Homo sapiens: one gene and its partners. The protein of the gene in region 2 purifies or fractionates together with the protein of the main gene of each other region. This does not show direct contact. Each region holds a gene or a part of one and is shown on either strand. Other genes may lie near its edges.

Region 1 (3,649 bases), on a different chromosome or scaffold from region 2:
TCAAAACACTTTCTTAGAAACAGCATACTCTATAATTTCTAAGGCAGAAACACGCAAATAAAAAAAATATAATATTAAAGATGGAAGGGAACTTAGAAATAACTTAGTGCAACTTCTTTGTTTTATAGAACACCTACGTCCAGGAAGTTTGTGTCTGGTTCACAGGCACAGAGCCAGACCTATAACCTCAAACACCCCAGGCCAGCCCAGTGGTCATTCTACTACACTAAGTTGCCTCTCATAAGTCATACTGAATTTTAAAACATAGTATCATATTAATAAAGATTTTTAAGGAAGGGAAAGAAACTCAACATTGATAGGATCACACTGAATTGGGGAACAACCAGTGTTTCTCAAAGGCATTCTGTGTGTAAATGCATCTTCATTGGGTTGAATTTTCCTGCACACTGCAGGATTTTAGCATTCTGATCCATGACCACAAAAATGGCAGGAGCACTTCTAAGTCATTGTGACAACCCAAATGCCATCACATTTCCAAATAACCTATAGAGGGGCAGAGAGAACTCTGTGAAGAACTGGATCTGTAGGCCAACCTTGTTTAGAACCCTAGTACCACTATCTTAGTCAATTCAGGTGCTATAGCAGAATACCACAGACTGGGTGGCTTAAACAATATTTCTCACAGTTCTGGAGACTGGGAAAGAAGTCCAAGATCAAGGGGCTGGCAGATTCGAGTCTGGTAAAGGCACTCTTCCTGGTTTCCAGAAGGCCTTCTTCTCACTGCACCCTCTCGTGGTGGAAAGAAAGTCAGAGAGCTCTCTGGGGCCTCTTTTGTAAGGGTGCGAATCTCATTCATGAGAACTCACCTTCATGACTTAATTAGGTCCCAAGGTCCCCACCGCCTAATACCATCACATTGGGGGTTAGGATTTCCACATATGAATTTTGGGGGGACACAAACATTCAGTTCATAAAAAACACTTTTAGTGACAGTTATCTCAATTACATATTTTTTAAAAATCTAAGAAAACTCAGTTTTTTCAGGGATAAGCTTGCAAAAGTCAAACTTTGACAGCAATGGATACACACATCCCCTTCTAATTTGGGAGACTTTATTTTATTAAGCTATTTGCATTTCTTATATAGTCTTAGAATGCCAGCAACATGTTCAAACGTACAATACATCTGTACCTACATAAGGTAGAGGTCATGAAAAAAGAATTTAATTTGAACATATTAACTAAAGCAACCACTTAGCGTGCTCAAAAGCCATTAATCTTCAATTTAAAAAATTAAGGTATGTGCATATGCACACATTTGCATCTGTGTGTAACTATTTTAAAATACTTACAAGATCCAGTGCTGAACCACCGCCCAGGTATTCCATTATTATCCATAATTTAGACCCCTGTAAAGCCATGAAACAATTTAATAATTACAAACCTGAGCCAAAATAACATACTAGCAAAAATGTTAAATCTCACATACTAAAGCACAGATTCTATTTGCATGTTCTCATTTATTTGTGGGAGCTAAAAATTAAAACAATTGAACCCTTGGAGATAGAGAATAGAAGGATGGTTACCAGATGCTGGGAAGGATAGTAGGGAGGGGGAGTTGGTGATGGTTAATGGGTACAAAAAGTAGTTAGAGAAAATGAGTAAGATCTAGTATTTGATAGCACAACAGGGTGACTATAGTCAATAATAATTTAATTATACTTTTAAAAATAAGTAGAAAAGTATTACCGGACTGTTTGTAACACAGAGAGTAAATGTACCCTGATGTGATCATTATACATTATATGCCTTTATTAAAATAGCTCATGTACCCCCATAAATATTTACACCTTCTTTGTAGCCACAAAAATTAAAAATTAAAAAAATAAAGAACAGATTCTAAAATGTAGGTTTAAAAATGGTTGCTTGGGAACCCCGAATATATTTTTTCCATAGAACATTCCAAATTAAAATTCTGAGCTTAGACTACCCGCATACCTTTTTGCCTATGATATAGCTAAACAAATAAAAGTACTGTTTGTTATTGTTGAACTATTAGTAATTTTTATAAAAAACAAAGCTTTAAATAATTATCTTGAATGATATTGGAAAGAAAAGATAGTTACATTAAAGAATGAGGAGGTAAATGAGGGCTTGTAGAAATTTTGGGTTTGAGTTTGAGGACAATGGATATTTTGCCTTATTTCAGTTGTTGGCTTTCATTTGTTTTGATGTACTTCAAACTTTTATCAGCTACGGTTAATGGGCATTTTTGGCACACACGGAACCTAGAAAGAATATTGTTCATTTTACCTCTGATGTAAATGGATAAGAAAAAGGGAGAGTGTAGCTTTAAAAATCTGTGCTTTCTCCAGGTGGAATTAACTTCCCTGTGAGCTGAACAAGAGGAAATGGGGCTCCTGGGAGGAATATATGTATACAAATTCTAAAACAGGTGTACACACACACATACCATTCAGTACCATCAGTTAAACACTGGAATAAACCATTAAACCCTTTTTATTTTAGCTATAGCTTAAATACAAGGGACACCTCTCTCTCCATACCATTTCATGAGTGGTATTCTCTGAATTTTTGTGGGACCAAAGAGCTGACTGGAAGTAGAATGGTTGGCTTTACTATACTGGCAGCAGCCAAGTAGTGACTGGACTGTGTTCCAAAAGTTGGTTTTTAAGTAAGATGTTCAGAATTTTAAAAGCAAGCATTTTCCCATAAAAATAATGTCTAAGTTCCTGGGGTAGTCCTCCCAAAAGACAATTTCACACAAATGTATTCATTCGTAGTATAGCATAAAAAGTACCAGAGAAACTCACTACTATTTATATCTTAACAATATTTCAAGTAGGAAAATATATTCAGCATGGTGCCTCAACTTGGGATGCCAGAAACACATTTCTCACCTTTACAACCCCAGCTGCGGGGTGAAGATTCTCAAGCTACTGCCAGTAGCCCTCAAACTCAAAAATCCCTGGGAGGTATTCAGGAGTCCAATTTAAAATTTCCAGGCATCTCCATGAGGATGTGACTTTATCAAGGCAGAGAATGGAACCCAGTGACATGATGATGAGTGCTTAGGGGATGGGAGAGGGTTGAAGAATCAGAGTGGAACTGACATTGTAGTGTGGGGAATGGGATGTGGCCTAGGGTTAGCGATCATGAAGGGAGGGCTCAGTTAATTAAGACAAAATGATTCTCCTTTCCATATGCTGACACTATGTAGAATTTGTAAGAGAAAGGGAGGAACAATATTCCCCTACCACTTCCTCCACTAATCTTGACATCCACTCTGTCCTGACATAGATGGCCAGCAGGCACTGTGAGCAGAAAGCTGAGAGTCTTGGTTAGCAGTGAAGTCTACATTAGGAAATAGAGGAAATAAATTCCCACAATACTGGTGAGGGAAGAGGAGTTCCAGGAAAGGTTCATATAACTTGTATTTGTGTATAGAACCTAGGCACTCGCAACCTGAGAATTGTGACTCTGATGTACCTTTATACTTTTTTCAAGAGAAGAAAAAAGTGGTTCTTACAATGGTGGATAGGTTAAAAATTGTTTCTTCTGCCACAAGTTTGTTTCTAACAAGTACTATACTCTATCATATGAATTCAGAGAGCTTCCCATTCACCTGACATTTAAAAGAAAAAGATCTTATAAAACATGCCTGCCTA
Region 2 (4,283 bases):
CAGAAAGAGCCATGACTCTGGGTCCATGAAACCCTCCCATTTGTACGTAGCAGAGGAGCTTTCAAGCATGAAAGGAGCCTATGGGAGGGAGCAAAGGCACCAAAAGATCCCTCCCTCCCCCCAGGCACCCACAGGAAGAACCAGCAGGCCATGAGGTCCCACACCACCCATTCTGTAGTGTGGTTCCTTGAGAGATCAGGGCCACAGAAGACTTAGAAGCGCCTGAGCAGCTTGCCAGGAAGCAGCTAGGGACAGGTCTGACCCCTACATCCTGATGCTATTTCTTCTGGTTAGTGGAAATCCCTTCACCAACACCCTCCCAGTCTCTAAGACCCTTTCTTCAGACTCTCCCCTTCTCTGCCACTGCAGCTGGAGGTAAGATGTGGGGAAGAAAGGCTAGTCTTTTCTTAAATAAATCCCAGCTTTGGCTCAGTCCCCCTCCTGACAGTTGTTGGAACCCTCAGGTGGAGACCACCAAGGACTCTGGGGCACCAGGGACTAGAGGACAAGGTGACAGAAGGCATAAGGTACAGGCTACAGGCAGCTCTGGAAATGCCATGGTGGGAGGGGAGTCCCAGTGCCATCCTGCCCTCCCCTTCCCCCGCTCCACACTCACCATGCAGACAAATATGGCTGAGCTGGTCCACAAGTTCCAACAGGTTCATGACCTTCAAGCCCTTGAGGACAACTTTCACAGCCTCCTTTTCTCCATACTTTGAAATCAGTAATTCTGCCAGGTCCACCGGAATCAGGCCCTCCAACTCCCCTCTGGCCAGTGGGGGCTGGCCCTCAGACAGGGTCATATCCCGTAAGTAGAACTTTAACTTCTTGAAATCGTTCTCCTCAAGGTCACTCAAGGCCCAGAGCAATGCCTCCCGGGGCTTTCTGGCCTTGGCCATGGCCATGGTGATCTGGGGGAAGGATCAAGTCCAGACCAGAAGACCAGTGACCTGGAGAAAGAGGCAAAAGGAGAGGTCCACTGCTGAGAGGCCCACCCTGCTTTCTGGGGGCTTGGCCAAGTTATAGAGCGGAGGCCAGGGAGAGACGAGATACATGTGCAAAGCTCCAAGAAAGACAAGCAGATGAAACGCAGGGGAATTTTCCTAGTCATTCCCCTCTGCCTCTTAGTCAGGTGACACGTGACTGTGTTGGCAAATGGGTAGGAAGGTATGTAGGTGTGTTAATCTCTCAATCTCTCTCTCTCTCCCCCAAACTCTATCTCTGTCTCTCTCTCTCCCCCCACTCCCTTCCTCTTTCCCTCTCAACACGTTCTTTATTAGGCTCTGTATGCCTCCTTAGACGGATGGATTAAGAAAAAAAAGTCTAAGTTTTTTATTTTATTTTTTTTGGAGACAGAGTCTACCTCTGTTGCCCAGGCTGGGGAGCAGTGGCATGATCTCGGCTCACCTCAACCTCCACATCCCACGTTCAAGCAATTCTCCTGCCTCAGCCTCCCAAGTAGCTGGAATTGCAGGTGCCCACCACCATGCCCAGCTCACTTTTGTATTTTTAGTAGAGATGGGGTTTCACCATACGGGCCCGGCTAGACTCGATCTCCTGACCTCAGGTGATCTGCCCGCCTTGGCTTCCCAAAGTGCTGGGATTACAGGCATGAGCTACTGTGCCCGGCCAAGTTTTAAGTTTTAAAAGTGAGACTGTCCCTGGCTGTGTGAACCTATAGAAAGCTGGAGCACATTTGCTGGAACTGCTGTGGTATGGCAAGAAGGTAAAAAAAATCTACACTCAACCCATTGGCCTCACATGTCAGCCTCCTGGCCTCAGTCACACAGGGATTGCAAAGCTAGAAGTCTCCTAATTCAAATAAGGAAACAAATCCAGATAATGATAGGAAGAGGAACCGCCACCTGTGAGTGCTGACTTTGTGCCAGGTGATTTACATATCCTTTTTGATCATCTCAGAAATCGTCTCAGGAACTGTTCCACATGAGAAATTTGGCAGTCAGAGAAAAATGGTTTTTCAGAGTTTTCCAGAGCTAGGCCACCGGGCAAAGAGGCAGGATTTAAACTGGTCTATGCCCTGGGTGGAAGAGAGAGACAGAAAAAACTCAAAAGATAAAGAAATAGAAGACAGAGTCAGGAACCAGAAAGTTAGGCTAAATGTTGCCAGAAGCTGGAGACATGTATAAATACTAAAGTAACGGGAAAGGAGAGCAGAGTTTTGAATTGTGTTTCTAATGTAGAACCAAAATGTAGGCCAGGTGGCAGTCTTTGGAAAAGAAAAGCAACAATTAATAGAAAGCCTTCAGAATCCAGAAATACACCTGTGACCTAAGGCCCATAGGGAACCCATCTCAGTAGTACAATGTCACATTCATCATTGAGAGTGTTCAAAAGAGAATTTGGGAACACAGAGAGTTGTTGCCATTCAAATACCAACATTTTGACTACATACTGACAGAGAAAGAAAATGTTTGGAACATGTTAGGATACAGGGGACTTTGGTTGTGAGTCATAGGCCAGTTTGGAAAAGCAGGCCTGTGAAAGCAGGATCAATTTACAACAAAGCTTCAGGCTGCATGGGAAGACTCAGGGCTTCCCTGCAAATTTCTGATGTTGGCAGAGCTATTTAATAATTCAGGAAAGAAAAGACAACACTAGAACCTGCCAAGAAGATGTCCAGTCTAGGCTGCTTACCACAGTTCAGACTTGGGGAGCTGGAGGTGAGGCAGCGAGAACTCAGCTCCCTGATCCAGGAGCCCAGTAAGCAAAGCCTGGGGACTGAGACGAAACAGATCCCCTTTCCTGGTCCGACAGCTCTACAGGTCCAAGTTTGGGCTCTCTTAGCCCATACTCACTAGTTCACTTCTGTTTGGTGGTGCTGGTACCTACCAGCTACAGCTTGATACCTAACAGTTCCTAGTATATAGGCCTGGAACAGAAGGGCCCCTCCCCATCTGCCCCAAGCCTCTGTGAAGCAGAACCACCCACTGAATGTCAGTGGGATGACTGTCAATGGGATGGGCAATTGCTCACCAGTGGGAAACTTGACCTCATTTTTTCAAATGTTGAAGTTGAGAAACAAGGGAGGGGTGGAAGGCATGAACTATTCTGTCACCAAGAGAAAAAGAGCCCAGGAGACTTCCCACATCCCTCCCTGGAACCCACACTCCTCCTCTACCACTTAACCCCAGCCTAGGCTGGGGCAGTTTGACTAGAGAGACGAAAGAATTGAAGCACTGCCACCACCATATCCTCCGCCAGTGCACCATTTCTCTAAGTTGTTGAAATCACTGGAGAATGAAAAAGGAAGAAGATAGGAGCTCCATGAAGTAGGAATTCAAACAAGGAGAAAAACAGGCCAGGCATGGTGGTTCACGCCTGTAATCCCAGCACTTTGGGAGGCTGAGGTGCGTGGATCATTTGATGTCAGGAGTTTGAGACCAGCCTGATCAACATGGTGAAACCCTGTCTCTACTAAAAATACGCAAATTAGCCGGGAATCATGGTGCATGCCTGTAATCTCAGCTACTAGGGAGGCTGAGGCAGGAAAATTGCTTGAACCCAGGAGGCGGAGGTTGCAGCGAGCTGAGATTGTGCCACTGCACTCCAACCTGGGCAACAAAGTAAGACTTTGTCTCAAAAAAACAAAAAAGAAAAAGGAGAAAAACAAATTCCCAGAAGGCAGCCAGTCCTCTGGCCTAGAGAGCTGAGGATCCCCAAGAGCCCTGACAGAAAGAGAACAGGTTTCTCCAAAAAGAATGTCTCCAAGAAAAAAGAAAAAAGACTTGCTAGACTAGCTGATGCTATTGGCCTTCTAAAACAGCCTATTGGGAGGCTATTAGAAGGTGGAAAAAGCTAGCAGTAACTTCCAAGAAAACCAGATAAATGAAAGTAAAATAAAGAAATTACTAGCAAGAGGAGAAACAAAAAATAAAATTGGAAATATAATAGTAAACTAATATACTCAAGTGTGAATAATGTTTGCATAGAAATCATAGTGTAACCACTGAACATTGCTCTAAAATTTAAAATATAATTACATTGAAAGGATGGTGGTGGAATGTACTAGAAGAGGAAGTTGATAGACAATGCCTAAAATGTTGAATCAAAAGATAGTGATATACAGTACACATATTACTTCAAAATGCAGAGATGTAAGAAGAAATAGTTAAAATCTAATGTATTAATAGTTGTTTTAGCGAAAAGAGACTGGGCATCAGGAGAGGAAAGGACTACTGTTCCAGGGCATAAGTTTTTTAATGCCTATTGACTTTAGAAATCATAACCATGTATTACTTTGAAAAGATAAAAATTAACTTAGC
Region 3 (3,649 bases), on a different chromosome or scaffold from region 2:
CCAGGCTGTAGTGCAGTGGTGCAAACATAGCTCACTGCAGCCTCAACCTCCCGGGCTTAAGTGATCCTCCCACTTCAGCCTCCTGAATAACTGGGTCTACAGGTCTATGCCACTATACTGGCTAATTTTTTATTTTTTTTGTAGAGACAGGGTCTCCCTATGTTGCCCAGGCTGGTCTCGACCTCCCTGGCTCAAGTGATCCTCTTGCCTCAGCCTCCCAAGTAGCTGAAACTATAGGCATGCACCAGCCACCATGCCCAGATGACTTTTGTATATTTTGTAGAGATGGGGTCTCATTATGTCGCCAGGGCTGGTCTCAAATGCCTGGGCTCAAGTGATCCTCCCACCTCGGCCTCCCAAAGTGCTGAGATTACAGGCGTGAGCCACCATGCCCGGCCTCTTTCTCCTCTTTATTTCCCTCAAGAGCATCAAAACAAGTTGCTCCACTTCTTATCATGTGACATTGTTTCTCTAGGTGACAGCATCAGCATGCTCCTGCATTAGCAATATAACAATGTAACTTGATTACCTCTGTTAAGAAAAAAATAATAATACAACAATGATAAGAATGATAGTTAATATTGGTTGAGTGATCACTGTGTACCAGGCACCACTCTAACAGCTTTATATATAATAAACCCAGTACCAGTAGTACCGCAGCTTAGCAGATGAGGAAATGGAGGCACAGAGGAGTCACTGTCTAAGGTCCCGCAGTTAGTAAACGGTGGAACCACGATCAGAAATCACAAGATCTGTGCTCTTCTCTCTACATGATTTTTGCTTCTGAGTATACACATCACATCATTCATTCATTATTTATTACTAGTCAAGGAAGGATGCCCTTTTCTCCTCTGGCAAAGCAGCTGCAGCCACTGGCCTGTCTCACCCGGACCGAAGCACTCACGCCCTTGCAGCTGCCTTCTTGGGTCTGTTCCTGGCTGCCCCCTTGGGTCTGTTCCTGGCTGCCCCCTTCTGTTTTGGTCCGTCTACATAGCAGCTTTTGTGGTTTCCCTGCTGAAAACCCTCCCATGACAGTTCTGATCACGTAAACCTAACCCGATGGCGCCCTGCCTATCCACTAACTCCAGGACCCGACATTCCCTCCTGTTCACTCTTCTCCAGCCACAAAAGCCTGCGTGCTGGGCTTGTACCAAAGCTGCTTCGTTTCCACATTGGATAGCTCTTTTCTCAGCCACTACAATGGCTGGCTCCTTCCTATGAAACAAATGTCACCTCCTCAGGGAGGCCTTTCCTGCCACCCAATCAAAAATCACCTTCAGATCTTCCTTCTGGTACCTACAGTTCTTCTCATGTCATTTACTTTGCTCTATTTTCTTCACTGATTATACAACTGTCTAAAATCATGTATTTATATGTCTACTTGTTTATTCTGTGGAACATGGGCTCCACAAAAGCAGGAAGCTCGTCTACCTTGTTCAATACTGTACCCCCACTCCTAGAACAGTGCCTGGTAGGTGCTGACTAAATCTGGGTCAGATGAATGAATTTGACAAACAGCGAAAAGCAGTCTGTAGGAATCCTACCTGCATCTGTGCTTTCTTCATATTGGCATTGACGACAGCCGCCATGTAACTGAGAGCAGCCTCACGGGTTTCGCCATTTAACAAAATACTATGCAGAATCTTAAAAAGCTCTTGCTGAAATTTATTTTTAAAAAGAAGAAACAAATTAAAACTATTTTGCACATGATTCCTTTTTGACTTCACGAACAGCTAGCCTACTTCCCACGTTCTCTCCTCTCCCACTTCTACTCATTTTAGAAGAGCCTGAGTGAAAGAATATAAGAAATATCCACATCCAACTATGTCAAAGTAATGAGCATGAAAGCAGAATATGGAGTGGGGGAGGTAGGCAGTTACAGTTTTTTGTTTTTTTTTGAGACAGAGTCTAGCTCTGTTGCCAGGCTGGAGTGCAGTGGTGCAATCTCAGCTCACTGCAACCTGCGCCTCCCAGGTTCAAGCCATTCTCCTGCCTCAGCCTCCCGAGTAGTTGGGATTACAGGCACACGCCGCCACACCCAGCTAGTTTTTGCATTTTTGTTGTTTTTTTTTTTGAGACGGAGTTTTGCTCTTATTGCCCAGGCTAAAGTGCAGTGGCACATCTCGGCTCAGTGCAACCTCCGCCTCCCGGTTTCAAGCGATTCTCCTGCCTCAGCCTCCCAAGTCGCTGGGATTACAGGCACCCGCCACCATGCCCAGCTAATTTTTTTTGTATTTTAGTAGAGATGGGGTTTCACCATGTTGGTCAGGCTGGTCTCAAACTGCTGACCTCGTGATCCACCTGCCTTGGCCAATTTTTGTATTTTTAGCAGTGACGAGGTTTCACCATGTTGGCCAGGATGACTTCCTGACCTCGTGATCAGCCCATCTCAGCCTCCCAAAGTGTTGGGATTACAGGCATTAGCCAACACGCCCAGCCGGCAGTTACAGTTTTAATAAAATAGGCTTTGTTACTTCTTTCCCATGATCAAAATTACCTTAGTTACCCAAGCCTGTAACTTCTTTGCCTGTTTCTTTTTTTTGAGATGGAGTCTTGCTCTGTCGCCCAGGCTGATGTGCAGTGGCGTGATCTTGGCTCACTGCAACCTCCACCTCCTGGGTTCAAGTGATCCTTGTGCCTCAGCCTCCCGAGTAGCTAGGTAGCTGGGATTACAGGCACGCGCTGCCATGCCTGGCTAATTTTTGTATTTTTAGTAGAGACGGGGTTTCGTCATGTTGGCCAGGCTGTTCTCAAACTCCTGACCTCAGGTGATCCACCCCACTCGGCCTCCCAAAGTGTTGGGATTACAGGCATGAGCCATCACACCCGGCCCTTCTCTGCCTTTAAGTTTGAGAATTGAAGACATATTAATCTGCATTTGGGATAAGCAAGTCAGTGAGGGTGTGTGCAAACTAACAATCCTTGCTCACCCTCACAGTGTAAATGCCTAAGGGCCAGCTGGAGGAGGAGCCGGGCCACTAAGCTTAGGACCAGTTCCCAGTGATGCTACATACAAAGGCAGCATACTGCTGTTGTTACAACCTGTTATTCAAGACACAGGCTACTTACTTATAGTTTATCTTTTTTATGTAAGATCGAATTGGCTTTTGTTAGCCGTTTGTCTACTGGGCATAGTCCAGTCTACAAAATAAAAGCTCTGTATCTGGAGCTCATCTTTGATACTTCCTCTGGATTTGTTTTCTGAACACTTACCCTTCCGAGCTCTAAGTAATGCTGCAATGATTGGCTAACCACACGAGTGTTTTCCAGGGTAATGGCAGGCCCTGAGAAGTATTTTTCAACCACTTTAACCTGGAAAGAGAAGGAAAAAATGCAGTCAACATATAATGCACATTTGGGAAAGAATCTGAATAAAAGGGCAGCAAAGTACAAGTAGCCACTATACTTACATCATCTTCTGCAAAGACTGAGAAGCTAAAGAAAGCCCCTAAGTAAGAGAGTCTCTGCAGCTCCCGCCCACAGCCAGGACTTAAGGATTTCGGCAACCACAACCGCAAAGAAGCAACCTAGGCAGAAGATGGAAGAGCCAGTCAAGCCGCTGAACAGGCCGGTGGGGTAAAAATGTAATGAAAACTCTCCAGCTCCTCTGTATTTTCACAAGATATTATTAAAACTTTTATGTTTCAGC

Evidence for each region.
Region 1: the proteins of NLRP10 (region 2) and STK26 purify together in Homo sapiens (affinity purification with mass spectrometry; one large-scale study listed by BioGRID and IntAct). This does not show direct contact.
Region 3: the proteins of NLRP10 (region 2) and UBE4B purify together in Homo sapiens (affinity purification with mass spectrometry; one large-scale study listed by BioGRID and IntAct). This does not show direct contact.

What each region holds. Positions count from the first base shown.
Region 1 is NC_000023.11:132,061,153-132,064,801, reverse strand, and holds part of STK26 (serine/threonine-protein kinase 26), read right to left. Parts: intron 1,370-3,649; coding exon 1,313-1,369; intron 1-1,312. UniProt on the Homo sapiens protein: Serine/threonine-protein kinase that acts as a mediator of cell growth. Modulates apoptosis. In association with STK24 negatively regulates Golgi reorientation in polarized cell migration upon RHO activation.
Region 2 is NC_000011.10:7,962,591-7,966,873, forward strand, and holds the start of NLRP10 (NACHT, LRR and PYD domains-containing protein 10), read right to left. Parts: upstream 2,858-4,283; 5' UTR 2,656-2,857; intron 1,085-2,655; exon of another isoform or gene 951-1,084; 5' UTR 906-950; coding exon 617-905; intron 1-616.
Region 3 is NC_000001.11:10,130,378-10,134,026, reverse strand, and holds part of UBE4B (ubiquitin conjugation factor E4 B), read right to left. Parts: intron 3,528-3,649; coding exon 3,411-3,527; intron 3,313-3,410; coding exon 3,214-3,312; intron 1,659-3,213; coding exon 1,545-1,658; intron 1-1,544. UniProt on the Homo sapiens protein: Ubiquitin-protein ligase that probably functions as an E3 ligase in conjunction with specific E1 and E2 ligases. May also function as an E4 ligase mediating the assembly of polyubiquitin chains on substrates ubiquitinated by another E3 ubiquitin ligase.